Regions from separate parts of the Homo sapiens genome. Here regions 1 and 2 are each linked to region 3. Evidence: fine-mapped expression QTL. A gene starts in region 3. Each other region holds a variant in brackets. All regions are shown on one strand. Distances are from middle to middle. Region 1 overlaps LNCOG (lncRNA osteogenesis associated). Region 2 overlaps LNCOG (lncRNA osteogenesis associated). Region 3 holds the start of LNCOG (lncRNA osteogenesis associated).

Region 1 (10,354 bases), 43 kb after region 3:
ATAATTTTTTTTTTTTTGAGATGGAGTCTCGCTCTGTCACCCAGGCTGGTGTGCAGTGGTGCAATCTGCGCTCACTGCAACCTCCACCTCCCAGATAAAAGTGACTCTCGTCCTTCAGCCTCCCAAGTAGCTGGGATTATAGGCACTCGCCACCACGTCTAGCTAATCTTTGTATTTTTAGTAGAGATGGGGTTTCACCATGTTGGCCAGGCTGGTTTTGAACCCCTGACCTCCGGTGATCCGCCTGCCTTGGCCTTTCAAAATGTTGGGATTACAGGTGTGAGCCAACATGCCAGGCCTGTGTTAATAATAATTAAGACATTTTATATGTTATATAGATCATATACTGTATTATTACAATAAAGTAAACTAGAGAAAATAAAGTATTATTAAGAAAATTATGGGCCAGACACAGTGGCTCACATACCAGTTGTTGCCATACCAGTTGTTGGTTTTTTTGAATGTCATTCCTGTAGACGTGTGCTTTGGGAAAATTTTGCTGGCAACAGTGTCTAAGGGGTTAGAGAAGGGAAGACCCCAGAGCCAAATAATTCAGCAACAAGTCTGTTGTCTTAATCAGGAGGTCAGGTGGTAAGCGCTTGGTCTAATGTGACAGAGGAGAGAACTAATCTGAGCTGCCTGTCATCTTAAGAGGAACAAAGCCTCCTCCAGCGTGTTTAGGACTCAACCTCTGGAAAGTATGGACAGGTAGAAACCTAGTCCCACTCCCAGGGTAACAAGGCCAGAACAGGACCACCAGCAACATCAGCTTATTACTAAGTTAGAAAATTTATAAATTCAGAAAATTTGTAAATTGTCTAGTTCAGTTCAGTCTGGGATGAATTTGAGCCAACAAGTGAGCCCTTACAGGGCAAAAGGGATACGAGATCACAGAATGAAGAGGGTGCAAGGAAAGGGACCAGCAGGGGAAAGTGTGGGGGATCAAACCAGAAAAGGACAGTCATCAGGCAAATTATGATAGAATGTCATCAAGAAGAATGAAGACTGGAAATAATTATACATTTTTTGATTGGGGGTGACTAGAAGTGTCACTGTAGGGATTAAGATGGGAATGGATGAAGAAGAAAATGCATAGTATGCACTGTGGACTACTGACTCCAAATGACCAGGACTGGGAAACATTAACCCATGAGCTGGCTCAAAAACAGCAGAAACCTATGCTGTGGTTTGGTGGCCGTGGTTCTGTGCAAATGAAAACTCAAGAGAACCCACACTGGGCTGTGACCAGACCTTCTGTTTTATACCTATGTTCTTGATGGTCATCTTTTATAATTATTGACAGCTGGAGGGCAGGGAGAGCATTCTTGCTTTTGTGTCAGAAAACATTCAACATGGAATAGGAGCAGCACTTCATCTGGACGTTAAACCTCTGGTTAAGGATTCCATGCAATAACTGGGCTCAACTCTGAATATATCCTGGATATATTAAATATATGTTAAAATATATTAAAAATATATATTTAATATATATCAGGATCTCAGCCTCCTCCTGAGTGAGGCATCGGAAATGTCTGATCCAGTAAGCAGGCATTGTGTCACACCAGCTGTCACACCGGGACTTCCCCAGCAGGGACAGAATTCCTAAGGGATTATCTCAGAATCACAGAAGTTTCAATTATGTAGGACCTGAAGTTACTCTCCCTCGTTCCTGGAAAATTTTAGGTCCAGGTTTACTAGTTCTATCTCTACAGCTCTAGTCATGATTCTTGGGGGGTTTAGTGTCCATGAAGATGATTCTTCTAGTTCCCTGGCCTTTAAAATTTCCTCAACTTCTTCACCTTTAATGATTTTGTCCTCCACTTCTTAGCCACCCGCTTACTCCCTTAGTCATATACACGTCTAGACTTCATGAATGGCAAGAATTGTATCTACTCCATAGTCTTTAAAATTTTTTTAAGAGACAACAGGGTCTCGTTCTGTCATCCAGGCTGGAGTGCTGTGGTACAGTCATAGCTCATTGCAGCCTTGAACTCCTGGGCGAAAGCAATATTCCTGCCTTAGCCTCCCGAGTAGCTAGGACTACAGGCATGAGCCACTGTGTCCAGCTAATTTTTTATTTTTTATACAGATTTCATTATGTTGCTCACGTTTACTCCATAGTCTTACACTCAAACATCTAAATCTTAAACTGTCTCATATTTTTGAGTCACTTCCTCTAGTACCCCAATTTTAATAATTCTTCAACCCAATGAGGATCTCTAAACTACTGATCCTATTACCTATTTACTCCCCCAAATGCCCTATGTCCTCACTTCCATAGCCAGGACTAGAGGGAGACAAGGGAGAGCCTAGGGTGCAACATCTAAGGAAACACACACTCTCAGGGTCCTGCGAGAGCAGGTGGGCACTTGCAAATTTTGTCTCTTTAAATGGTGCACCCTAGGCACCTGGCCTGTGCCTCACACTAGCCCCAGTCTAACTTACTTCTTACCTAAGCTAGACAGCATAATCCATTATAATAAATACCCAGTGCCTCTCTCCTGTTTATCTGGCAAAACACCACTCTGGTTAAATCCATGCCAGCATCTGAGACATTGCACATGGCTGGAGAAAAACACCCACCCTTGCTCACAGTTCTCATGGACACTAACCTCACAAGGACTTCTCATGCTCCTCAGGAATCTCTCCACATTTCCTAGTCCAGCGGTTCTCGAAGTGAGGTTCCTGGCCCAGCAGCATCAATATCGCCATGTATTAGTCTATTTCCACACTGCTATAATGAATACTACCTGAGACTGGGTCATTTATAAAGAAAGGAGGTTTAGTTGACTCACAGTTTCAAATGGCTGGGAAGGCCTCAGGAAACTTACAATTATGGTGGAAGGCAAAAGAGAAGCAGGCACTTTCTTCACAAGGCAGCAGGAGGAAAGTGAGAAGAACCGAACCATATCACACCAGGAACTTGTTAGAAAAGCAAATTCTCAGGCTCCACCTCAGACCTCCTGAATTAAAAACTCAGAAGGCGGGGCCTGTCAGTCTGCTTTGTCAAGTCCTCCAGGTGATGCTGATGTGCCGTCAAGTTTGAGAGCCACTTCCCTAGTCAACTTATTCTCCCCATCTTGAGACAATTTCATACTTCTCCCCTCTCCTCCAAATTCAGATGGCCCTTCCCCTGTGACACCCACAACCTCCTATCTGAATTTTTTTTTTTTTTTTTTTTTTAGATAGGGTCTTGCTCTGTCACCCAGGCTGGAGTGCAACGGTAAAGCTCACTGCAGCCTCCACCTTCCAGGCTCAAGTGATCCTCCCACCTCAGCCTTCTGAGTAGCTGAGACTATAGACACGCACCACCACACTTGGTTAATTTTGTTTTTTTACATTTTTTGCAGACAGGGGCTTGCTATGTTGCTTAGTTTGGTCTTGAACTTCTGGCCTCAAGCGATTCTCTTGCCTTGGCCTCCCCAAAGTGCTGGGATTACAGGTGTGAGCCACTGTGCCTAACCTCAAATTCTTAATTTACTGAGAAAATCAGAAGATAACCTTCACCTGCTTCCACCACGGATTCTCCTGAGGAGGCTGTGCCTGTGCCTCACACCTGGCCTTCAACCTTCCTGCTACCATCAACCACTTGGGCTGTCCTTAAAGTCCTGTGAAGTGGGTCCCAGCCCCTCTCACCTACTCAAGCACTCAGCTCCTGCAGTTGTGCCCTCTTCCTTCCTACTGGGTAATTCCCATCAGTATTTCATATCTCTTAATCTTTTTTTAAAAAGAAAGAAAAAAAAGAGAAATATTCCCTTAAATCCACATCTTCTTCAAGCTACCACCCAATTTCCCTGATCTCCTTTAAGCCAAAATTCACAAGCCATATCTTTAGTTTCTGTCTCCAGCTCCTCTCATGGGTCATTGTCTCATGGATCTACTCCAGCCAGGCCATGATGCCCACAACTTCACTGACAATGCTATTACCATGTGCTTCCAATTGCTGAGCCCTATGGTCAATTCCCAGCACTCATCTCACCTCCTTGGGGCCCTTTCTGCAATTTCCCTTTGGGTCGTTGACATGCTTTGGCTACACTCACTTCCAAATCTCATCTCGAATTGTAATCGCCACATGTCAAGGGAGAGACCTGGTGGGAGGTGATTGGATCATAGGGGCTGTTTCCCCCATGCTATCCTCATGATAGTGAAGGAGTTCTCACGAGATGTGTTTTTTTTTTTTGTTTTTTGTTTTGTTTTGTTTTTGTTTGTTTTTTTTTAAGTGTCTGGAGTTTCCCCTATGGACGCT[C/G]TCTCCTGCCACCATGTAAGTCTTGCCTCTCTTTTCGTTTGCCTTCCACCATGATTGTAAGTTTCCTGAGGCCTCCCCAGCTATGTGGAACTGTGAGTCAATTGAACCTCTTTTGTTTATAAATGATCCAGTCTTAGGTAGTATCTTTATCACAGTGTGAAAGTGGACTGATACAGATGTCATGCCACTTTGAGTTCCCTTCTTACTTCATTGGCTGCTTCCTCTCAAACTCTTTTGGTCTGCATCTTCCTGCCATCTGAATATTGGAGCTCCCAGAGCTCCAGCCTTGGCCACTCTCCCTTTCTGGCTATACTCACTTCCTAGGGGTCTCATACAAGCCCATGGCTTTAAATGCTATTTATATACTAATGACTTAGCCCTCCCATGAGTTGTATAGTCAGTCACTCTGCAACATGGCATTGCCAATATATCTACAAATGAGCTCAATATTCCTTGCCCCACCACCTCAACCCATTCATTCTCCAGCCCTATGCAGCTCTGTCAGTGGCAATGCCAGCCTTTTAGTGGCTCAGGACAAATCTCTGAAGTCATCTTGGATTCCTCTACTTCTCTCACATCCTACATGCATTCCTTTAAGTCCTTTTGGCTCCATCGAAAAAAATGTGTCTGGAGCCTGACCACTTGTCCCCACCTCCACAACACCTCCACACCCAAGCCACCAGTGTCTCTGTCCTAGATTATTTCAGTAGCCTCCGAATGAGCCTGTCAGTCTTCACTCTTACCCCCACAGGCTATTTTTCACACAGCAGCTGAAATAATCCTTATAAAGTATAAACCAGATCATATTACTTTTCTGCTTGGAGCCCTCCAGTGACACATCATCTCAGAATCAATCCAACTGCTTGGCTATGGCTGACAATGGGCATCACTTCCTTTCACTCTCTGAGACCTCTGGCACCTTGCATTGTCTGGATGGGCTTGGTACTTGTATTACCAGAAAGAGGTCCTGATCTAGACCCCAAGAGAGGGCTGTTGGATCTCATGCAAGAAAGAATTCAGGGCAAGTCCATAAAGTGAAAGCAAGTTTATTAAGAAAGTAAAGAAATAAAAGAATGGCTATTCCATAGGCAGAGCAGTGGCCTGGACTGCTCAACTGAGCATACTTATAGTTATTTCTTGATTATATGCTACACAAGGGGTGGATTAATCATGAATTTTCTGGGAAAGGGGTGGGCAATTCCTGGAACTGAGGGTTCCTCTCCCTTTTAGACCATAGGGTTAACTTCTTGACGTTGCCATGGCATTTGTAAACTGTCGTGGTGCTGGTGAGAATATCTTTCAGCATGCTAATGCCTTATAATTAGAGTATAGTAAGCAGTGAGGATGACCAGAAGTCACTTTCATCACCATCTTGGTTATGGTGGGTTTTAGCCAGCTTCTTTACCACATCCTGTTTTATCAGCAAGGTCTTTATGACTTGCACCTTGTGGCCAACCTCCTATCTCATCCCATAACTAAGAAAGCCTGACCTCCTGAGAATGCAGCCCAGTAGGTCTCAGCCTTATTTTACCCAGCCACTTTTCAAGATGGAGTCTGTTTGGTTTAAATGCCTCTGACGCTTGTCGTTCCCTGTGCTGGAATGTTCTTACTCAGATACCCACGCAGCTGCCTTCAAGTCTCTGTTTAAATCGTATTTCATGAGAAAAGCCTTTCACTTCCTTTTAGACAAAAAAGCGCCACTGCAGGGAGGAATGCCAGGGTCCCATAGAGGGAGACCGACAGTGAAGTGGAGCCTGCCATGAATTCACCAAAGGCCATTCTCCCTTTCTTCCAGAAGAACAGCATTTAGCTGGGCCTATGGCTACCTACCTAAAGACTGCACCTCTTAGTCACCCTTGTGGCCAGGTGTGGCCACGTGACAGTGGAATGTAAGTGGAAGTGATGTATGCACTTGGGTTCATTGGTTTAAAAAAAAATATGACCGCCCTCCATTTCCACTCTTTGTCTTATCTGTGAATGGGAACATGGCTGTGTCTGCAGCCCGACTTTGTGCAGCAAAGGACAAGGCCCTAGGGGAAGGTGGAGAAACAAGATGGAACAACTTGGACCCAACAACTTGGATCCCTATGTGGCCATGTGGAGTCATCTCACCCACCTGGGCCACTCACCCCGAAGACTGTTGTGTGAGGGTGAAATAAACTTCTGTATCACTAGCCCCTGCATTTCAGAAATTCTTTGTTATGGCAGTTTTGCCTTTATCCTAACACAGACAGCAAAGTATCTTCTGTGGCCCCATGACTAATTTCGTTGTTTAAACTCATTATAAAAACTATATAAATAAAATATTAAAAATCAAATAAAATAGCAAGATAACACTGTGTAACTATCCAGTTTTAGATGTTATTACCTTTTTGGCATATTTACCTCATCTATTTTCTCCAGGGGTTTTTAAAGAAGAGTCATGCTTGTTATTTTAAATTATCTGCAGTGCTCCTTGGTCTTATAAAACTATGGGTTATTTCAAACTTCGGTAAATGTCTGATACACATGAACTTCTTGCATTGTTGAGGAAATCAGAGAAAAATGATGCTGTTTTTCCCTTGTAAGTTGACAATGGATGGAGATGAAACCACCTTTGCAAAATTATGGCAATAAGAGAAATTGGACATGGCAGACTCCATCTTGCTTTTAGCCTCACAGGTTGGCTGTCTTGGCTCATTCCTGGGCATAAGCCAAGCTAACTTTGGCAGAAATTGAGTTTATAGTGTAAACGATAATAGCCTTTCCCCAAAACTAAACTACCCTTGTAAAATTAATGAAAGGCCACCAAGTTAGGAGGATGAGAAGGGCCTGAATGCCTGAATTCAGCCATTATTCTGGAAGTCACAAGATGTGCAACCTCCCCAGTTACTCCTGTAAATAACTTCAGTATTGTAGAACCTAAGATTGGCCTTTTGACAGCCTTTTGCATTTCTGACAACTAGATGGCCCCACGCAGACCCGTGACTCAACCAGTCCTATAGCCTTCATCCAAAAATGGACTCAGTGCATGAGGACTGTTTTCCACACCCTTATGATTGCATCCCAAACCAATCAGCAGCACCCATACCCTATCCCCTGCACACCAAACTATCTTTGAGAAACTCCTAACCTCTGATTCTTTGGTGAGATTGATTTAAGTAATAACTCTGTCTCCCACATGGCGTGGCTGGCGTCGTGTCAATTAAACTCTTTCTTTACTGCAATGCCATGGTCTCTATGAATTGATTTTGTTTTGCAGTGGGCAGGAAGAACCTGTTGGACAGTAACAGAGAGAAGAGAAGAACCATAAGAAGTGGAATGTGAGGTGGATTGAGAGTTTAGTGGGACCAGGAAATCTAAGCAGGAGTGACCCCAGCAACAGAGGCACCTTAGGGTTTGCAGAAATCATGGGAAAGGCACTGAACTTTCCACAGTATGTAGGATAAGGACTTGAGTCTTTTTTTTTTTTTTTTTTTGAGACATTGAGACAAGGTCTCTTTGTCACTCAGGCTGGAGTGCAGTGGCATAATCATGGTTCACTGCAGCCTCGACTTCCTGTGCTCAAGTGATCTTCCTGCTTCAGCCTCCCAAGTAGCTGGGACGACAGGCAGGTACTACTATTCCCGGCTGGGTTTTTTTGTTTTTTGTTTTTTTTTTGTTTTTGAGACGGAGTCTTGCTCTTTTGCCCAGGCTGCAGTACAGTGGCATGATCTTGGCTCACTTCAACCTCTGCCTCTTGGGTTCAAGCGATTCTCCTGCCTCAGCCCCCCAAGTAGCTGGGATTACATGCACCTGCCACCACGCCTGGCTAAATTTTTGTATTTTTAGTAGAGAAGGTGTTTTGCCATGTTGGCCAGGCTGGTCTCAAACTCCTGACCTCAAGTGATCCACCTGCCTTAGCCTCCCAAAGTGCTGGGATTACAAGGGTGAACCACCACACCCAGCCCATGCCCAGCTAATCAAAAACAAATTTTTTTTTGGTAGAGATGGAGTCTAACTATGTTGCCAAGGCTGGTCTCAAATTCTTGGGCTCAAATGATCCTCCTGCCTCAGTCTTCCAAAGTGCTGAGATTACAAGCATGAGCCACCACACCTGGCTGCCATTTTTATTTTAACATTAAATGTATACATATACTACCCAAGGCTGGAAGACATAGGGACACCAAGATGACAGTTAGTGTGTGCTTTGTATATGTAGGTATGCCTCAGAGATATTATGGGTTTGGGTCCAGACTACTGCAATAAAGCAGATATCACAATAACGTGAGTCACAAGAATATTTTTGTTTCCTTGTGCACATAAAATTGTGTTATTCTACACTGTAGTCTATTAAGTGTGCAATAGCATTATGTCTTAAGAAAGCAATGTATATACCTTAATTTAAAAAATGGTTTATTGCTGAAAAATTTTCATGATCATCTGAGCCTTCAATGACTTCCGTAATCTTTTTGTGGGTAGAGTCTTGCCTTGATGTTGATGGTTGCTGACTAATCAGGGTGGTGGTTGCCAAAGGATGGGGTAGGTGTGGCAATTCTTAAAATAAGGCAGCAATGAAGTTCTCTGCATCAATTGACTCTCCCTTTTATGAAAGATCTCTCCATAGAATGGAATGCTGTTTGATAGCATTTTATCCACCATAGAAGTTCTTTCAAAATTGGAGACAATCCTCTCAAACCTGCTACTGCTTTCTGCTTTATCAACTAAGTTGATGTTATCTTCTAAATCTTCTGTTGTCATTTCAACATTGTACATGGCATCGTCACCAGGACTAGATACCCTCTCCAGAAAGCACTTTCTTTGCTCATCCATAAGAAGCAACTCCTTGTCCATTCAGGTTTTACCTTGAGATGGCAGCATTCAGTCACATCTTCAGACTCTACTTTTGATTCTAATTTTATTGCTATTTCCACCTCATCTGCTGTGACTTTCTCCAGTGAAGTCTTGAACCTCTGCAAGTCATCCATGAGGGTTGGAACCAACTTATTCCAAACTCCTGCTCATGTTGGTATTTTGACCTCTTCCCATGAATCACAAATATTCTTAGTGGCAACCAGAATGGTAAATTCTTTCCAGAATGTTTTCAATATACATTGCCCAGATTCATCAGAGGAATCCTTACGTGTGGCAGTTATAGCCTTAAGAAACGTTTTTCTTAAGAATAAGTCTTTAAAGTTGAAACTACTCCTTGATCCATGTGCTACAGAATGGATATTATGTTAGCAAGCATGAAACAACATTAATCTCTTAGTACATCTCCATCAGAACTCTTGGGTGATCAGAGGCATTGTTAATGAGCAGAAATATTTTGAAAGAAACCTTTTTTTCTGAGCAATAGGTCTTAAAGGGTGGGCTTGACCAGGCATGGTGGCTCATACTTGTAACCCAATTATTTCAGGAGGCTGAGGCGAGAGGATCACTTGAGCTCGGGAGTTCAAGATCAGCCTGGACAACATAGGGAGACCCCATCTCTACAAAAAACTAAAAAGTAATAAAAATTTTTTAAATTAAAAAAAGAGTGGGCTTAAAATATTCAGTAAAAGATGCTATAAACAGATGTGCTGTCACGCAGGCTCTGTTGTTTCATTTAGAGCACACAGGTAGAGTAGATTTAGCATCATTCTGAAGGACCCTAGGATTTTTTGAATGTTCAATGAGCATTGGCTTCAACTTCAAATCCCCAGCAGCATTATCCCCTAACAAGAGAGCCCATCCTTTAAAACCTGGAAACCAGGCATTAACTTCTCTCCAGCTATGGAAGTTCTAGGTGGCATGTTCTTCCAATAGAAGGCTGTTTCATCAGCATTGAAAACCTGTTGTTTAAAGCAGCCACCTTCATCAATGATCTTAGCTAGATCTTTTGGATAACTTGCTGCAGCTTCTGCTTTTGGAGAAAGTGCTTCACCTTGCACTTTGATGTTATAGAGATGGCTTCTTTCCTTAAACCTCATGAACCAACCTTTGCTGGCTTCAAACCTTTCTTCTGCAGCTTCCTCACCTCTCCCAGCCTTCATGGAATGGAAGAGAGTTAGGGCCTTGCTCTGAATTAGGCTTTGGCTTAAGGGAGTGTTGTGGCAGGTTTGAAATTTTATCCTACCACTAAAACTTTCTCCATATCAGCAAGAAGGC
Region 2 (10,354 bases), 33 kb after region 3:
TACACTAGATCTCCAGATTTCTTCATCCTACATAACTAACTTTTTACCCTTTGACTTCTGTCTCTTCATCTCCCCACCCCTGTTCTATTCTGTTTCTATGCATTTGAGCTTTGTTTTTCTTTTTAGATTGCACATAAATGAGATCATATAGTACTCTTCTTTCCATGTCTGGCTTATTTCACTTAGCATAACGTCCTCTAGGTTCAACCATGTCACAAATGGCAAGATCTCTCTTTTTTAAGGCTGAATCATATTCCATTGTAGACATGTACCATAAATTCTTTATCTATTCATTCATCAATGGACACTTAGGTTGTTTCCATATCTTGGTTATTGTTTCTAGATCTTGGATATTGTGAATTATGCTGCAATAAATTATGCTGCATAATTATAATGCATAAACATGGGGGTGGTAATTTCATTTCCTTTGGTTATGCACCCATAGATAGATTGCTGGATATATGGTATTTCTATTTTTAGCTTTGAGGAGCCTCTGTTCTGTTTTCCATATTGATTATACTAATTTACATTCCCACCAACCATGTACAAAGGTCTCCTTTTCTCCACACTCTTGCCAAAAATTGCCTCATCTTTTTGATAATAGCCATTTTAAACAGGTGTGAAATGATATTGCACTGTGGTTTTGATTTGTATATCCTTGATGATTAGTGATGTTACCACCAAGGAATGCTTTTATCCTTTCTCATACTTGCTATCTTTTGAAAGAATTTTTTTTAATCAACCAGAAGTTGTTAAGTAACTGATTCATTTCTTATGTGATCCCCAGTGTTACTAAACTGGATTAATATAACTATTGCCCAAAGAAGCTTGCACAGACTTTATATAAGAAAATATGCAACAGCTATTAGAGGCTTAAACTAAGAAAAACAGCATGCGGACACTATTATAACCATATTGGAATGTGAAATTCTAGGTTGAACACCACTAGACAAGTTAGTCTTAAGGTTCCGTCTAACCCTCTCTGAACCCATAAGGTAGTATAGAGTTTCTACTGTATACCTTTTGGAGGATTCAGTAATTTATTTTGCCTTTAAAGGTAGCAATTCAATGTAGTTAGGAAGATAAAGCTATGACAGGAAGTAATTAGAGACCTATTAAGCACTAAACTGAGCATCAGAATATTTAATACAATAAGCAATCAGAAAAGAGATTTAGTGTGGGCTGGGGTAGTCAGACTCCATCAATGTTGAGAAGAGATAGACTTTCTCTGGTTCTTTAATGATAATTACATTTTAAATAACCTGAAAGGGCAAATGAGGGCATTTAAGGATTGGCTAAGAGAAGGACTTTATCATAGGATGCAAAGAAGAGAAGCCAACAGAAGAGAATGAATGCTCTACTTTTTCCTATCTTTTTTTCCCGAGAAAAAAAAGTGTCCATTTCTTCGCCCTTACTTCTGGACTCAGGGGATAAAGCCCAAAGTGTTTTGTGATTTAAGTCATTCTTTCCTCTCTAGTTTCATTTCCAGCCACACCCTCTCCCAAACTCCATACTCCAGTCATCTCAGAAGATGGTACCTGATCCACCAAGTTTCTCAAGCCCCAAACCCTAAGCGTCTTCTTGATTCCTTCCTTCCCCTCCCTCTCCTCTCCTCACCAGCCAATCTTCCAAAGACACCTGTAGAGTACATCTCTAAATTTCCACATTGTCTTTATACAGTGCAAATCCTATTGCCACTTCTCTGCTTAAAATATTTAATGGCTCTTCATAAGCTACAGAATAAAGTCAAAACCTCTTATGGTGCCATAGCAGACTCTTGATTATCTAGTCCCTGATTACTTTTCTAATCTCATCTCCATTGGTTTCCTTCCTCCAAGGCTTGATGGAATGTGTACGAATTCAACTGCTAGAGAAATCATCGGAGGCAGCAAGACTAAGTATTAGAGGATAAGAGCTTAAATTAAGGCAATAGGAATGGGGATAGTAATAAGGATATGGATTTGAGAAATATTGAGTAGAACAGAGACAACTTAGTGACTAGTTAAATGTAAGGATAAAAAGAGGCAAAGCAGGGATGATGATGATGACAACGATGATGGCAATAAGTAAATGACACCAAACATTTTTCTGTGCAGTTACAACATATAAAGCTTTGTTTTTGAGTGTTTAGGTGTGTTAACACGTTAAAATTTCAAAACGATCCTATGGGATAGAAGCTGTATTTATCCACATTTTACATATAGGAAAACTGAGGCACATAAGTTTAATAGCTCGTCGAAATGCACACTGGGTACTTTCATACAGTCTAGCTTTAAAACCATGCATGATTAAGCACAAAACAGCCTCCTTTGCCTTGTCAAACTGATTGCCATCTCCTGAACATGCCATACTCCTTTGAAACCGTTGTCTTCCCATTCCTTCTGTGTGAAATGCCCTTATCCCTTCCTTTGAATGGAAACCTTCTTTACGACACATCAAATGTTACCTCCTCTGGGAAGTCCTCTCTGTGCCTTCCTCCAGCAGAGTTCTTTACCCCCTATTCTGTTTATATTATGCCATTTGCATGGCTCTATTGGGGAATATATTATACTATGTGCAGATTGGGGACATATAATACACTATGTGCCCATTACTTCTTAGCACATCTATTCCCACCCATGAACTAGACTATGAGCTCTAAAAAGGACAGAATCTGTGTCTCATTTATCTCTCAAGCCCCAGGATCTAGCATATTTCCTGAGCTATAGGAGGTACTCAATGCTTATTGAATGAATGAATGAGTGAATAAATGAATAAAAATATGGCCGGGCACAGTGGTTTAGACTTGTAATCCCAGCACTTTGGGAGGCCAAAGAGGGTGGATCACTTGTGGACAGGAGTTCAAGACCAGCCTGACCAACATAGTGAAACTCCATCTCTACTAAAAATACAAAAAAATTAGCCAGGCGTGGTGGTGCACACCTGTAGTCCCAGCTACTCAGGAGGCTGAGGCATGAGAATTGCTTGAACCCAGGAAGTGGAGGTTGCAGTGAGCCAAGATCGCACCACTGCACTCCAGCCTGTAGAGCAACAGAGCAAGACTGTCTCAAAAAAATGAATAAAAATATGGAGGTGGGAATTATCCACTCTGCTGTGTTACTAATGGTGATGATGTGAGCTCTTAATGCAGGATTGAGACAGATGAACATCAGTGGAGGGACCAGAAGAATCAAGTGGACAGGTTAGAGATAAACTTGAGACTGGCATGACTGAAGAGGTTAGCAAAATGACACCCAGAATAGCCAAGTAGGGGATGTCAAAAGTCTGAGGATGTAACTGTGGAAGATAGATGCAACAGGAACGTCTTAAGATCAGACCTGAAAGGAGTAACAAACAGATGTTACTCTTATTTCTGGGCACTGGTTTCAACAATTCCCCTGCCATTAAATTCCTGGAATATGGCTGCTGTTGACTTATTCCCCTTTTCCTAGAATTTCAGAAAGTATGTGAATTGCAGAATAGACACCATTACCAAAGAGTTTTCTGGAAAAGAAAACAACATTTGCAAGTAGCATGCAACAAAGATCAAGTCAATGTTTTTGTAGAAGCCAAAATTGCTTGAACCCCAAAATGTTATCTGAATACTTATCCCATTCACATGGCTGATCTTTACCCTCCATGTCTCCTCACCCACCATTTATGGAGGGACCTCCCCTGTGTGCTTGGTTGCTGGACTTATTTTGTAATCTGCTTCTTAGAGATCCCAGCCTTCTAATAAAGGGAATGGGTTGGTTTCTTTTCTCTCCATGTGTCAATATAATCTTCCTTTGTCTTTACACATTTTTACGTGCTGGCTGGAGAGCCACTTTGGTTTTTTGTTTTTTCTTTTGGTTTGTTTTTTGTTTGTTTTCTGAGACAGGGTCTAGCTCTGTCACCCAAGCTGGAATGCAGTGGTGCAATCATGGCTTACTGCGGCCTCAACCTCATGGGTGTCAGGCCTCTGAGCCCAAGCCTGCACATATACATCCAGAGGGCCTGAAGCAAGTGAAGAATCACAAAAGAAGTGAAAATGGCTGGTTCCTGCCTTAACTGATGACATTCCACCATTGTGATTTGTTCCTGCCCCACCTTAACTGAGTGATTAACCTTGTGAAATTCCTTCTCCTGGCTCAGAAGCTCCCCCACTGAGCACCTTGTGACCCCCGCCCCTGCCAATAAGAGAACAACCCCCTTTGACTGTAATTTTCCACTACCCACCCAAATCCTGTAAAACAGCCCCACCCCTATCTCCCCTCACTCTCTTTTTGGACTCAGCCCACCTGCACCCAGGTGAAATAAACAGCCTTGTTGCTCACACAAAGCCTGTTTGGTGGTCTTTTCACACAGACATGCGTGACATTTGGTGCTGAAGACCCAGGTCAGAGAGACTCCTTTGGGGGACCAGTCCGCTGTCCTTGCCCTCACTCTGTGAGGAGACCCACCTACGACCTCGGGTCCTCAGACCAACCAGCTCAAGGAACATCTCACCAATTTCAAATCGGGTAAGCGGTCTTTTCACTTTTCTCCAGCCTCTCTCACTACCCTTCAATCTTCCTCTCTTGCTACCCTTCAATCTCCCTGTCCTTCCAATTCCAGTTCTTTTTCTTCTCTAGTAGAGAAAAGGAGACACATTTTATCCGTGGACCCAAAACTCTGGCGCCAGTCATGGACTTGGGAAGACAGTCTTCCCTTGGTGTTTAATCACTGTGGGGACGCCTGCCTGATTATTCACCCACATTCCATTGGTGTCTGATCACCACAGGGACGCCTGCCTTGGTCATTCACCCACATTCCCTTGGTGGCAAGTCAATCGCGGGGACGCCTGCTTTGGCTGCTCACCCACATTGCAGCCCAGGGCTGCTCCCCACCCCCCTTCTCTGTGTCTCTACCCTTCTTTTTAAACTTGCCTTCTTCACTGTGGGCACGCTTCCACCCTCCATTCCTCTTTCTTCTCCCTTATCCTGTGTTCTCAAGAACTTAAAACCTCTTCAACTCTTGCCTGACCTAAAATCTAAGTGTCTTATTTTCTTCTGCAACACCGCTTGGCCCCAATACAAACTTGACAATGGTTCTAAATGGCCAGAAAATGACCCTTTTGATTTCTCCATCCTACGAGACCTAGATAATTTTTGCCAAAAAATGGGCAAATGGTCTGAGGTGCCTGACATCCAGGCATTCTTTTACACATTGGTCCCTCCCTAGTCTCTGCTCCCAATGCAACTCGTCCCAAATCTTTCTTCTTTCTCTCCTGTCAGTTCCTTCAGTCTCCACCCCAAGCTCTGAGTCATGTGAATCCTCGTTTTCTACAGACCCATCTGACCTTTCCCCTCCTCCCCAGGCTGCTCCTTGCCAGGCCAATCCAGGTCCCAACTCTTCTTCAGCCTCCACTCCCCCACCCTATAACCCTTCTATTACCTTCCTTCATCACGCCTGGTCTGGCTTACAGCTTCATTCGGCGACTAGCCCTCCCCCC[CT/C]GCCCAACAATTTCCTCTTAGAGAGGTGGCTGGAGCTGAAGGCATAGCCAAAGTTAATGCTCCTTTTTCTTTATCCAACCTCTCCCAAATCAGTTAGCGTTTAGGCTCTTTTTCACCAAGTATGAAAACCCAGTGCATGGCCCGTTTGGCAAGAACCCTTAGACACTTTACTGCCCTAGACCCAGAGGGGCCAGAAGGCTGTCTTATTCTCAATATGCATTTTATTACCCAATCCCCTCCTGACAGTAGAAAAAGCTCCAAAAATTAGATTCTAGCCCTCAAAACCCACAACAGGACCTAATTAACCTCGCCTTCAAGGTGTACAATAATAGAGTAGAGGCAGCCAAGTAGCAACTATTTCTGAGTTGCAATTACTTGCCTCTACTGTGAGAGAAACTCTAGCCACATCTCCATCACACAAGAACTTCAAAACGTCTGAACTGCAGTGGCCAGGTGTTCCTCCAGGACCTCCTCCCCAAGGAGCTTGCTTCAAGTGCCAGAAATCTGGCCACTGGGCCAAGGAATGCCCGCAGCCTCGGATTCCTCCTAAGCCATGTCCCATCTGTGCAGGACCCCACTGGAAAATGGACTGTCCAACTCACCCGGCAGCCACTCCCAGAGCCCCTGGAACTCTGGCCCAAGGCTCTCTGACTGACTCCTTCCCAGATCTTCTCGGCTCAGCAGCTGAAGACTGACACTGCTTGATTGCCTGGGAAGCCTATAGGACCATCACAGACACTTTGGATAACTCTTACAGTGAAGGGTAAGTCCGTCCCCTTCATAATCAATACAGAGGCTACCAACTCCACATTACCCTCTTTTCAAGGGCGTGTTTCCCCTGCCTCCATAACTGTTGTGGGTATTGATGGCCAGGCTTCTAAGTTCTCTTAAAACTCCCCAACTCTGGTGCCAACTTGGACAACATTCTTTTATGCTCTCCTTTTTAGTTATCCCCACCTGCCCAGCTCCCTTATTAGGTTGAGACATTTTAACTAAATTGTCTGCTTTCCTGACTATTCCTGGGCTACAGCCACACCTCATTGCCGCCTTTCCCCCCAATTCAAAGCCTCCTTCACATCCTGTCCTTGCATCTCCCCACCTTAATCCACAAGTATAGGACACCTCTACTCCCTCCTTGGCGATGGATGATGCACCCCTTACCATCACATTAAAACCTTATCACCCTTACCCCGCTCAACGCCAATATCCCATCCCACAGCACGCTTTAAAAGGATTAAAGCCTGTTATCACTCGCCTGTTACCACATGGACTTTTAAAGCCTATAAACTCTCCTTACAATTCTCCCATTTTACCTGTTCAAAAACCAGACAAGTCTTACAGGTTAGTTCAGGATCTGTGCCTTATCAACCAAATTGTTTTGCCTATCCACCCTGTGGTGCCCAACCTGTACACTCTTTTGTCTTCAATACCTTCCTCCACAACTCGCTATTCCATTCTTGATGTTAAAGATGCTTTTTTTCACTATTCCCCTACACCCCTTGTCCTAGCCTCTCTTTGCTTTTACCTGGACTGACTCTGACATCCATCAGTCCCAGCAGCTTACCTGGGCTATGCTGCTGCAAGCCTTCAGGGACAGCCCTCGTTACTTCAGCCAAGCTCTTTCTCATGATTTACTTTCTTTCCACCCCTCCACTTCTCACCTTATTCAATATATTGATGACCTTCTACTTTGTAGCGCCTCCTTTGAATCTTCTCAACAAGACACCCTCCTGCTCCTTCAACATTTATTCTCCAAAGGATATCAGGTATCCTCCAAAGCTCAAATCACTTCTCCATCTGTTACCTACCTCAGCATAATTCTTCATAAAAACACACGTGCTCTCCCTGCCAATCATGTCTGACTGATCTCTCAAACCCCAATCCCTTCTACAAAATAACAACTCCTTTCCTTCCTAAGCATGGTTGGATACTTTCGCCTTTGGATACCTGGTTTTGCCTCCTAATGAAACCATTATATAAACTCACAAAAGGAAACCTAGTTGACCCCATAGATCCTAAATCCTTTCCCCACTCCTCTTTCCATTCCTTGAAGACAGCTTTAGAGACTGCTCCCACACTAGCTCTCCCTGCATCCCAAACCTTTTCATTACACACAGCCAAAGTGCAGGGCTGTGCAGTCGGAATTGTTACACAAGGACCAGGACCGTGCCCTGTAGCCTTTTTGTCCAAACAACTTGACTTTACCGTTTAGGCTGGCCATCATGTCTCTGTGCAGTGGCTGCCACCACCCTAATACTTTTAGAGGCCCTAAAAATCACAAACTATGCTCAACTCACTCTCTACAGTTCTCACAACTTCCAAAATCTATTTTCTTCCTCCCACCTGATGCATATACTTTCTGCTCCCCAGCTCCTTCAGCTGTACTCACTCTTTGTTGAGTCTCCCACAATTACCATTGTTCCTGGCCGGACTTCAATCCAGCCTCCCACATTATTCCTGATACCACACCTGACCCCCATGACTGTATCTCTGATCCACCTGACATTCACTCCATTTCCCATATTTCCTCCTTTTCTGTTCCTCATCCTGATCACACTTGGTTTATTGATGGCAGTTCCAGCAGGCCTAATAGCCACTCACCAACAAACGCAGGCTATGCTATAGTGTCTTCCACATCTATCATTGAGGCTACTGCTCTGCTCCCTCCACTACTTCTCAGTAAGCTGAACTCATTGCCTTAACTCAGGCCCTCACTCTTGCAAAGGGACTACACGTCAATATTTATACTTACTCTAAATATGTCTTCCATATCCTACACCACCATGCTGTTATATGGGCTGAAAGAGGTTTCCTCACTACTCAAGGGTCCTCCATCATTAATGCCTCCTTAATAAAAACTCTTCTCAAGGCTGCTTTACTTCCAAAGGAAGCTGGATTCATTCACTGCAAAGGCCATCAAAAGGCATCAGATCCCATTGCTCAAGGTAACACTTATGCTGATAAGGTAGCTAAAGAAGCAGCTAGCATTCCAACTTCTGTCCCTCACGGCCAGTTTTTCTCCCTCTCATCAGTCACTCCCACCTACTCCCCCACTGAAACTTCCACCTATCAATCTCTTCCCACACAAGGCAAATGGTTCTTGGACTAAGAAAAATATCTCCTTCCAGCCTCACAGGCCCATTCTATTCTATCATCATTTCATAATCTCTTCCATGTAGGTTACAAGTTGCTAGCCCGCCTCTTAGAACCTCTCATTTCCTTTCCATCTTGGAAATCTGTCCTTAAGGAAATCACTTCTCAGTGTTCCATCTGCTATTCTACTACTCCTCAGGGATTGTTCAGGCCCCCTCCCTTCCCTACACATCAAGCTCAGGGATTTGCCCCGGCCCAGGACTGGCAAATTGAATTTTCTCACATGCCTCAAGTCAGGAAACTAAAATAACCTCTTGGTCTGGGTAGACACTTTCACTGGATGGGTAGAGGCCTTTCCTACAGGGTCTGAAAAGGCCACCGCGGTCATAATTTCTTGGTTTGGCCTTCCCACCTCAATACAGTCCGATAACGGACCGGCCTTTACTAGTCATATCACCCAAGCAGTTTCTCAGGCTCTTGGTATTCAGTGAAACCTTCATACCACTTACCGTCCTCAATCTTCACGAAAGGTAGAACAGGCTAATGGTCTTTTAAAAACACACCTCACCAAGCTCAGCCTCCAACTTAACAAAAAGGACTCTGTCAAGAATAGAGCCCAAAAACTCACCAACCAAACAAGTAATTACGCTGAACCCCCTTGGACACTCTCTAATTGGATGTCCTGGGTCCTCCCAATTCTTAGTCCTTTAATACCTGTTTTTCCCCTTCTCTTATTCAGACCTTGCGTCTTCTGTTCAGTTTCTCAATTCATACAAAACTGCATCCAGGCCATCACGAATCTTTGTATATGACAAATGCTCTTTTTAACAACCCCACAATATCGCCCCTTACCACAAAATCTTCCTTCAGCTTAATCTCTCCTACTGTAGGTTCCCACGCCGCACCTAATCCCACTCGAAGCAGCCCTAAGAAACATCACCCATTATCTCTCCATACCACCCCCAAAAAATTTTCACCGCCCCAACATTTCAACACTATTTTGTTTTATTTTTCTTATTAATATAAGAAGACGGGAATGTCAGGCCTCTGAGCCCAAGCCTGCACATATACATCCAGATGGCCTGAAGCAAGTGAAGAATCACAAAAGAAGTGAAAATGGCTGGTTCCTGCCTTAACTGATGACATTCCACCATTGTGATTTGTTCCTGCCCCACCTTAACTGAGTGATTAACCTTGTGAAATTCCTTTCCTGGCTCAGAAGCTCCCCCACTGAGCACCTTGTGACCCCCGCCCCTGCCCATAAGAGAGCAAACCCCTTTGACTGTAATTGTCCACTACCCACCCAAATCCTGTAAAACAGCCCCACCCCTATCTCCCTTCCCTGACTCTCTTTTTGGACTCAGCCCACCTGCAACCAGGTGAAATAAACAGCCTTGTTGCTCACACAAAGCCTGTTTGGTCGTCTCTTCACGCGGACGTGCGTGACAATGGGCTCAAGTCGTCCTCCCACCTCAGCCTCCTGAATAGCTAGGGACTACAGGCATGCACCACCATGCCTGGCTAATTTTTGTATTTTTTGTAGAGAAAGAGTTTCACCATGTTTCCCAGGCTGGTCTTGAACTCTTGAGCTCAAGCGATCTGTCTGCCTTGGTCTCCCAAAGTGCTGGGATTACAGGGATGAGCCACCATGCCCGGCCTTGAATAGCCACTTTGGATCCCCATTTGAAACTCCCTTCTGTTGGAATTCCAAAAACTTTTCTGCACAGTCCTCTACCCAAATGCCCTTGTGTAATATACACCTCTGTGTTACAGTCTTGTTGCAGACAAAGTGCAAATACTAGGGTTCA
Region 3 (10,354 bases):
CAGATTCTAGGAGGACATATTTCATTTTCTGGGCAGCAAAGGCGGGAAGAGGATTTCATTTCTGTTTTCTTCCCCCTCACTACACATAAAGTTCCTGAATCTACAGAGAAATCGATGATTGCATTTTTACATTTCTCCTAGTGGACGGGCCACCCGGATTTATTCTGTGAAAATAGAACTGCTTGGACCATTCTCAACAAGCTGGGGCAAAGTGTCTATTAATAATGTTGGCAATATCTCCTAAGCTGATGTTCATGTCAGTGCTAATCCCCCTGAAAAGGCCCTGACATCCCAGGTCCTGCTTCTGATGGTAATAGTAGTTACAGGCATGCATTGAGGCAATTGCACATTCACAATGCCCAAGAACTGCTCCTGGAAATGTTTCTGTTGATAGGTTGGTGTTTTTCAGCAGACTCATTTGGGTACTTTGAGTTGTGGTGAAGATGTGTGAAAATGATTTCATCTACATTTCAGGGTTACTTTAAATTCTGGGGGGAAGTGCCGCCAGCAAGATTCTCGTCCCCACCTCACCCTACTGAGACCCTCACTTAAGGTCAAGAAGGCATCTGGTTGGCCCGAGCTGGATCCAGGGATTTGTTCTTATTTCTCTTGAGCTCAGTGCTGTCTTTGGCTCCTCACTGAATGTTGCTGCTTCGTGGATGTCCCCACAACAGAAACCCATTTAACAAAAAGAGAGAGCCAAGAATATGAGGGTCATCACAGCACTCTTCACCTATATCCTTTAGAACAGTGTTCTCATCTAGAGCCAATTTTGTCCCCCAGAGAACATTTCGCAATGTCTGGAGACATTTTTGGTCATCAGCACTGGGAGGTGGAGGAGCAGATGCTGCTGATATTTAGTAAATAGAGGTCAGGAATGCTGCTAAACATCCTACAATGTGAGGACAGCTCCCCACAACCAAGAACTATCCAGCCCCAAATATCAATGATGACAAAATCAAGACACTCTGCTTTGAATCAGTCTATTGCTGGGGTGTAAGTCAAGTCTCCAGGGGGACTAGAGATTTTCATGTACTTTACTCTCCATTCCAGAAACTAAATGGGACTGAGTGTCTCTTGAGTTCTGTGATACCAAATTAGCATTAGAATAAAATCTTTCACAAGCATTAGATACATCACCTTCAGAGAATATAAATGAGACATTTCTGAATCTGAATAAAGACATCTCTTTTGGTGTTATTGCAGCATTGGACTAAACAAGGTAGAACCGTGTCACAACTCCTCTCAAGGGTTATTACCTCCTTTCAAGGAGTAATCTGTGGGCCACTTGAATTAGAGTCGCCTGGAAAGCTTATTAAAAATGCTGACTCCTGAGCCCCATCCTCTGCCTACTATATCAGAATCTGAGAGTTCTACATTCTCTCCGCCCTCACCTCATCAGCCTCCACCACATAGGAATGACCAAATGCCTATGTGGTTCTTAGAACACTGCCTGACATCCAACAAATGTTAATGATTAATATTATTTACCATGATCATTGTTGGAGTATAACAAAAAATAAATATGTGGTCTTTATTCCTTCCTAAAACCCTTGGCATTTACTGTTGCTTGTATGCTACTTAGATGACTGTGGAGGCAACCTAGTTAGCTTCAGTATTGGGGCTGGTTGCCAGAAAAACTTTCTGATTAGAAGGTTAGAACTTTTAGCCCCATCCCCTGTCACACCTCTACACACAGGAAAGGGGTTGGAAATTGAGTGCAATTATCAACAGTCAATGATTTAATCAACTATGCCTACATGATGTGTGGTGGACATGGAAGGTATGAGCCTGCCCAGAAAAGACATGGACTCTCAGCATCCCAAGCCTCTATACCTTGCCCTAATGATCATCTCTCTCATTTGGCTTTTCCTGAATTGTACCCTTTATAAGTAAAGCATTTTCCTGAGTTCTCTGAGTCACTCTAGCGAATTATCAAACCCCAGTTGGTGGGGGGGAGTGTCATAGGAATCCCCAAACCAGTAGTCAGTTGGCCAGAAGTGTGGGTAGCCCTGGGACTTCATTTGTGGCTGACATCTAAAATGGGAGTAGGCTTGTGGTCCTGAGCCCTCAACCTATGAGGTCTGTGCTAACTCTGGGCAGTTAGTGTTAGAACTGGATTGAATTGTTGGGCACCAAGTTGGTGCTGGAGAATTGGAGAATTTGTTGTGTTGAAATGACATATTTGTTGTCATAAACACACACACACACACACACACACACATAACTATCTTAGCCTAAGTTACAAAGAAACCATGGGAAGAGAGAATGAATCAGATACCAAGATAATAATACAATAAAATATTTAATAATTTATAATATTAATAAAATCTTAATAGGATAACTTTTCAATAATATCTTCAGCAAGTTAGCATCTGTGTGGTGGCTCACATCTATAATCCCAGCACTTTGGGAGGTCAAGTTGGAAGGACTACTTGAGCCCAGGATTTCAAGACTAGCCTGAGTAGCATAGTAAGATATGCTATCGCGACAAAAAATTAAAAAATAAGCTGTGCATGGTGGTAGATGCCTGTGGACCCAGGCTGAGATCCCAGGTTGAGGATGCAGTGACACTGTCTCAGAAAAAGAAAGAAAAAGAAAGAATTTTCTTTTTTTTTTTTTTTTTTTTTTTGATGGAGTCTTGTTCTGTCATCCAGGCTGGAGTACAGTGGCGCAATCTCGGCTCACTGCAAGCTCCGCCTCCCAGGTTCATGCCATTCTCCCGCCCCGGCCTCCCGAGTAGCTGGGACTACAGGCGCCCACCACCACGCCAGCTAACTTTTTTGTATTTTTAGTAGAGACGGGGTTTCACCGTGTTAGCCAAGACTGTCTCGATCTCCTGACCTCATGATCCGCCCGCCTTGGCCTCCCAAAGTGCTAGGATTACAGGCATGAGACACCGCATCTGGCCCTTTTTTTTTTTCTTTCTAATGAGGTCTCACTATGTTGGCCAGGCTGATCTCAAACTCCTGGGCTCAAGTGATCCTCCCACCTTGGCCTCCCAAAGTGCTGAGATTACAGGTATGAGCCACCATACCCAGCTCACTTTTATTCTAATTTCTGATTCCATATTGATATTGTGCTTAGATATATCAACTGTAGAGACCCTATATTCAAAGCAAGATATTTTTAAAATGTCAGCCTCCCCCAGAATGTTCCAAGATATTAAAAGAGACATTAACTCAGAATCTTTATTTCATCAGGAAAAATTTCTTCTATAAACAGTTAGTAACTCCCAAGGGCTGTCACTGGTACAATACTAAGAATATTGCCTCTGCAGAAATAAATGAATAACACATTTTTAGATGTTGGAATGATGTTATCTGCACATTATCTGTGGGAGGACAGAAGAGTCTCCATAGTCTCTACACATCATTTGCTGCTGCTTCTTTTTTTTTTTCTTTTTTGAGATAGAGTTTCCCTCTTGTCACCCAGGCTGGAGTGCAGCGGCACGATTTCAGCTCACTGCAACCTCCGCCCCCCTGGGTTCAAGTGATTCTCCTGCCTCAGACTCCCAAGTAGCTGGGATTACAGGTTCCCACCACTATACCCAGCTAATTTTTGTATTTTTAGTAGAGATGGGGTTTCACTATGCTGGCCAGGCCGGTCTTGAACTCCTGATCCACCCGCCTCAGCCTCCCAAAGTTCTGGGATTACAGGTGTGAGCCACCGCACCTGGCCATCATTTGCTTCTCAATGGCAGAACAACAATATGTGAACAGCAAGAGAGAAAATGTAAGACTAATTGCTTCAGGAAAGATAACTTTGGTACTGCAATTTAGCCATGAGGGACAAGTCTTAGTGGACAGCTGGTTCTTCATCCATCGGAAGACTGTGGTCATCTGTTCATTCTACTCTTTCTTCTCTGTGGATGAAGTTTTCCGTCATTGTCTTCACACTACCTTGACTTTCTCTGGATTCTATTGACTTAGACAGATTACTGGCTCCTAGTGGACTACTGCATCTGAGCAAATGCTTACTCCCTATTTAATTGTACCTGTCTTTACCTATTTATTCAGAGGAGCCAGCTGCCCTGGACCCCATCCCAATCTCTGTCAAAGGTCACTCTACTTCCCAACCCAATGTATCCCACATTCCTAGAAGACAGAGGCTAGGGAGAGATTAGAAGAGAGAGGTTAGAATGCCAGGATTAAAAGGCAGCTTGTTTTCTTCTTTTTCACATGTCAAACTGTTAAATGCCATTAGGCCAACTCACTTCCCAGCATGTGACAAGGACACTGCTGGCAGGGAACATCTCCTTTCTCTGACCCTCTTTTGCTCTTCTTAATCCTCAAATATTGAAGTTTTTATCTTCAGCAAATGAAGAGGTAATTTAAACTGCTTACAGAGAGAAACCGAATGGGGGAAAGGGTATATGTTGTTAGTAACCCCCCACAGTTTAAGTGTTTTTAATTGTACATATAGGTTTTCTGTTAGAAAATGACTAGAATTTTCTAAGGCAGCACTGCCTAATAGAAATATAGTGTGAGCCACACAATATAATTTTTAAGTTTTTAGTAGTCATTAAAACAAGTAGAAAGATACCAGTGGAATTTTAATAACTGTATTTCTATACTGCTGCTCCTTCTATTGAATCTAACTTAAAATTCCATGTAACCCTCACATGTGGGTATGAAAAACATTAACAGGAAATGCTAATATAGGGAGTCAGTGAAGCTGGGGTAGGAAATTGATGATGTGATACCGGAAGTGATCTGGCAGGGCTTTAAAGTAATGCCAGAGGTCCTTCCAGGCAGTTCTCAACTTGCTCCTTGGCTGTTCTCCTGACACTTAAGTCAGAGCATTCTGTAGCTGTATTTTACAGAACTGTAATTGCACAGATTGTTCCTCTTACAAGAGAAATATCCAGAGCTCTAAGAAAACAACTGATGAAAACGGTATGTACCCATTTAAGAAAATCTGCCCTCGAGATATGATGTTATGATTTATTTGAATCTTACTGTGAATTAAAGCACTATCTCAGAAGGGTTTGCATTTAGATAATGACTGTGATTGTCATTTGGCTGGCTTGAAGAAATTCAAGAAATTTAAGCCATTTTTGAGCAGAGGAGGAATTAATATGGGGGGAAGAGTATCTTTCTGTTTCTCTGTTTGCTCTGATAGGGGCCACACAGGTCGTTGCATAAGGTAAACACTAACTGTGGGGCCCATGTGATTTGTTCAGCTTTAGAAAAATAATAAAGGGGCACAGTGAAGCAGAGGTGTGGTGCTGAGCACAGGTGATGGGGTAGAGGATGACAGAGAACAATATTTCAACAAATTGAATTTAAAGATCTCATTAGCTTTTATTAGCAATTATGAGTTGGTCAGCATCCCATTCATAAAATGGAAAGACATTCCTCCAGGGTTGGCAGAACAGTTGATTTCTGTAAGGTAGCTTAAGCAAGAAGGAAATGGTGTCATGCCAAAAGTGGGTTGGTTAACATCAGATGGCTTCAGTTAACTTTCCTTGTATGGGTTAAAGCAGAGGGCCTTTCATGTTATGTCAGCTCAGGTTGACTTGGTGGCTTTGGATTGGTTGCTGAGAATCTCCTAGATTTTTTTTTTTAACTGGCCCATTTCTAAATTCAGTTTAATTATGTGGAAGCTAGAATTTATTTCATTTTGATTTGGTCCCGGCTGATGGAGCCTAGTGCAGGAATCAGTCCAAAACAGTGGCCTCCCATATTTTTTTTTTTCCTTTTTTTTAGACTGAGTCTCACTCTGTTACCCAGGCTAGAGTGCAGTGGCATGATCTTGGCTCACTGCAATCTTCACCTCCCGGGTTCAAGCAATTCTCCTGCCTCAGCCTCCCAAGTAGCTGGGACTACAGGTTTATACCACCATGCCTGGCTAATTTTTGTATTTTTAGTAGAGATGGGGTTTCACCATGTTGGCCAGGATGGTCTTGAACTTCCCAGCCTCCAGAACTGTGAGCAACAACTTTCCATTGTTTATAAATTACCCAGTATATACTATTTTGTTATAACAGCCCAAATAGACTGAGTCATTCACTATTTTTTTTTTTTTTTGAGACGGAGTCTCGCTCTGCTGCCCAGGCTGGAGTGCAGTGGTGCAATCTTGGCTCACTGCAACTCTGCCTCCTGGGTTCAAGTGATCCTCCTGCCTCAGCCTCATGAGTAGTTGGGACTACAGGTGCCTGCCACCACGTCTGGCTAATTTTTGTATTTTTAGTAGAGATGGGGTTTCACCATGTTGGCCAGGCTGGTCTTGAACTCCTGACCTCAAATGAGCCACCCACCTCAGCCTCCCAAAGTGCTGGGATTACAGGCGTGAGCCAATGTGCTCATCCAGCTTCAATTTCCAACCCCTTTCCCTTGCATAGTGATAGGAGTGGTGGATGGGGCTGAAAGTTCTAACATTCTAATCAAAAAGTGCTGGGATTACAGGCACTTTTTGATTAGAAGTGCCCGGACCCATAAATAGTATTTAACAATGGTAACTATGGTAGGCAAACATCAAAGCACACTGTTGCATTTTTTGGAGATTCTCTAGGTAGGCATCCAACTCTGGGAAAACAGAGGAAGACCATCATCATCAGAAAATAAATGTTCTAAAAAACTGTCTCTGAAAAGTGTTGCTCTTTAGTCCCTTGCTCTCCATGCTGGAGTTAATGAGTGTGAAGTCCTTTGAGAGTTACCTGTGCAGTGGAAATGGAAGGAGGAAAGTGCTCATTTACCTTTAAGGGGACAAAAGTGGAGCTCCACAAACAGATGCAAAGCAGCTGGAAGAGGGGTAGGGAGGAGGACTTTTGTTTAGAGAGTTTCCTTTTTCCAGATCTACTTTAAGTCTTTAATCCATTTGGAGTTGATATTTGTATATGGTATGAGATAAGGATCTAATTTCATTCTTCTGCATGTGGATATGCAGTTTTTCCAGCACTATTTATTGAAGAGACTCTTCTTTCCCTATTGTGTATTCTTGGCACCATTGTTAAAGATCAGTTGACTGTAAATACATGGATTTACTTCTGGGATCTCTGTTTCACTGGTCTACATGTCTGTATTTGTGCCAATACCATGCTATTTGGATTACTATAGCTTTGTAGTGTATTTTGATATCAAATAGTATGATGCTTCCAGCTTTTTTTTTTTTTTCTCTCAATATTGCTTTGGCTACTCAGGGTCATTAAGGATCCCATATGAATTTTAGAATTATTTTTTCTATTTCTGTAAAAAACACTGGAGTTTTGATAGAGATTGCATTGAATCTGTAGATTGCTTTATGTAGATAGTATAAACATTTTAACAATTCTTCCAATCTGTAAACATAGGGTATCTTTCCATTATTGGTGTCTTCGATTTCTTTCATCAGTGTTTTATAATTTTAACTGTACAGATCTTTCATGTCAGTTAAATTTATTCCTAAGTGTTTATTTATATTTTTATTTTTATTTTTATTTTTTTGAGACAGGATCTTGCTCTGTTGCCCAGGCTGGAATGAAGTGGTGCAATCACAGCTCACTGCAGCCTCAATTTCTTGGGCTCAAGCAATCCTCCCACCTCAGCTCCCCAAGAAGCTGTATCTACAAGTGTACACCATCACACCTGGCCAAATTTTAAAATTTTTGTAGAGACAAGGTCTCACTATGTTGCCCAGGCTGGTCTCCTGGGCTCAAGCAATCCTCCTACCTCAGCCTCCCAAAGTGCTGAGATTACAGGTGTGACCCACTCCACCCAGTACTAAGTTTTTTTTTTTTTTTTTTTTTTTTTAATTAAAGCTATTGTAAACGGGATTGTTTTCTTGATTTCATTTTCAGATAGGCTGTTAGTGTATAGAAATGCAGCTAATTTCTTTATGTTGATTTTGTGTCCTGCAACTTTACTAAATTTATGTATTAGTTCTTATAGATTTTTGGTGGAGTCTTTAGGGTTTTCCATATATAAGATCATGTTATCTGCAGAGGCAATTTCACCTTAATGGAAAAGACCAAAGTAATTTTTACTCTTCCTAACCTTTCATAGTAATAAATGACATTTATCGAGAGCCCACCACACAGCAGGCACTGTTCTAAGCACTTCACAGGGATCATCACATCAAATCCCCACAATAACCCTTGCGGTTAGCACTGCCATTATTATCATTTTGGAGATGAGGATTGCCCACCACTCTACCAGCAAGTGGCAGATCTAGAGTAGATAGGAGTGCTGTATTTGGAAGAGCACGTTCCTGGGGTAAGAGTCACAGTCCTGCCTTGTTCCTGACTAGTAAATGAGACTCTGAGGACCTGGATGGCTTCACACAAAAGTACAGAGTAGGCTGAGGGCTGAAATGAAATCATGGTTGAGATATTCTAGACCCCTTTCATCAAGTTCTTAAAAGCCCGTACTCTCCTTAGAATAAAAGGAGTTTAAAGGGAGAAACAAGCAATAGAACTATTTTCTTCCATTTTTCTAAAATTTTATTATTTTCTAGATCAATAGTCTTATACTCTCAACTCTTTTAAGGAAAGAGGTTATAGGATATTTTGTATAGGTCAACAATCTCTTGTCAGAAATGGTTTTGGCTGGATAATTCATAATTTAGAATTTTAGAGATTTTTAGAAAGGTTATACATTCATATATTATATTTTACATAATACCAGCAGTGGAGTCTGCGGATGATATGGACTGAATTGTATCCCCTCAAAATTCATATGTTGAAGCCCTCAACTCCTGTAATGGTTAATTTTATGGGTCAAACTGACTAGGCTACGGGGTGCCCAGATTAAACATTACTTCTGGGTGTGTCTGTGAGAGTGTTTTCAGATGAGATTAGCATTTGAATTGGTGGACTCAGGAAAGTAGATTGCCCTTGTCAATATGGGGAGGCCTCATTCAACCCGTTGAAAGCTTGATAGAACAAAAGCAGAGGAAGGGATTTGTCCCCTTCCTGCCTGCATGCTGGAGCGGGAACGTCGGTCTTCTCCTGCCTTTGGACTGGGATTCACAGGATCATAAGAAATGATACGGATTAAAAATTATTTTTTTTATAAAATTAAATAAAAACCAAACTTTCTCCTGTCATTCGTTTTATTAACATGGATTTTTGTCTAAACAATTTCTGTTTGAGTAAATGTCAACAATCTTTCCATCATCATTGAAAGCATATTACTCCAGGCTAGCTATAAACTACCTCACATTAAGTAACATCACCAGATCATCTGTGGTGTTTTTTTCACCTATATTTATAATATCATCATCATTATCTTCTGTAATCCTCACACTTACTATATTTGCAACATTTCAGCAATCTCCCCATCACTGAAAATATACAACTGCATCACTACCAATGATCAGTATTTCTTTACTATCAGCTTCTTCTAACAACTTCAGCCAATAAAAACTTAGTGTAATAATAAAGATAGACATAATTGTTTTTTCATCAATGGCCCCACATATTTCTAAGTTTGTGTTGGTGGTTTTATTTTCCAACATTGGAGTAGCAAAATTCTGTTCCTAGCATTTGTTGATGTTGACTTAATAATATCATTCTGAGCATTGGCAGCTCTGTAAATGGTATCCTTGAGTATAACCTCTTTAAGGAAGTCTTAGATTCCTGGCTTCTGTTCACTGAAGCAAACATACAGTTTGGAAAGAAGTGCTCAGACTTGCTTTTCAGTCTCTAAAGCTCTTTGGCTCCAAGGCTACACTCCTGATGTCATGTTGCAAGGAAAAGAAAAACTGAAAACATTATGCAAGAAGTTCAAGAGGAGGGTTTGTAAAGCCATGGTCCAGAAGTAATAGAACTTTACATTTTTCTTCTACATCAGCTTGCTGGTAATAAGCCCATATTGCTGGTACAAAGTGGCCATTGAATCATCATAAAGTAGTTCTCTAATTACTCATACTTTCTTGTTTGCACAGGTAATTTGCATATACCTTTCAAATTTCTTGGATGTAGGCTTTCCTCAGGTACTGTCAATTTTATCTTGTTTTAAAAACACAGTGCTGGCCAGGCACAGTGGCTCATGCCTGTAATCCCAGCACTTTGGGAGGCCAAGGTGGGTGGATCCCAAGGTCAGGAGTTCAAGACCAGCCTGACCAACATGGTGAAACCCCATCTCAACTAAAAATACAAAAATTAGCTGGGTGTGGTGGCACGTGCCTGTAGTCCCAGCTGCTTGGGAGGCTGAGGCAGGAGAATCACTTGAACCTGGGAGGCAGGGGTTGCAGTGAGCGGAGATCATGCCACTGCACTCCAGCCTGGGTGACAGAGTGAGACTCTGTCTCAAAAAAAACAAAACACAGTGCTGCATGCCAAGCACAGTCCATCTGAGTTTAGTGTTATTAAAACCTATAGAAGCTTTCTCATGAGTCAGTACCATGGGAAAACAGTACCAATATAGAGCTT

The links.
Region 1: its variant is fine-mapped to the expression of LNCOG in spleen (GTEx, PIP 0.98).
Region 2: its variant is fine-mapped to the expression of LNCOG in skeletal muscle (GTEx, PIP 0.91).

Annotation. Positions count from the first base shown.
Region 1 is chr12:76,298,542-76,308,895 of GRCh38, forward strand. It overlaps LNCOG (lncRNA osteogenesis associated), which reads left to right. Exons shown (of 4, transcript NR_146531.1): 4 at 5,933-7,428. Among named protein-coding and RNA genes, the nearest start is that of LNCOG, 44 kb to the left of the region's middle. The variant C/G (reference allele first, on the strand shown) is at 4,247.
Region 2 is chr12:76,287,790-76,298,143 of GRCh38, forward strand. LNCOG (lncRNA osteogenesis associated) reads left to right here. Exons shown (of 4, transcript NR_146531.1): 2 at 4,327-4,481; 3 at 6,024-6,216. Among named protein-coding and RNA genes, the nearest start is that of LNCOG, 33 kb to the left of the region's middle. The variant CT/C (reference allele first, on the strand shown) is at 5,453.
Region 3 is chr12:76,255,084-76,265,437 of GRCh38, forward strand. LNCOG (lncRNA osteogenesis associated) reads left to right here and starts at 4,800. Exons shown (of 4, transcript NR_146531.1): 1 at 4,800-4,898.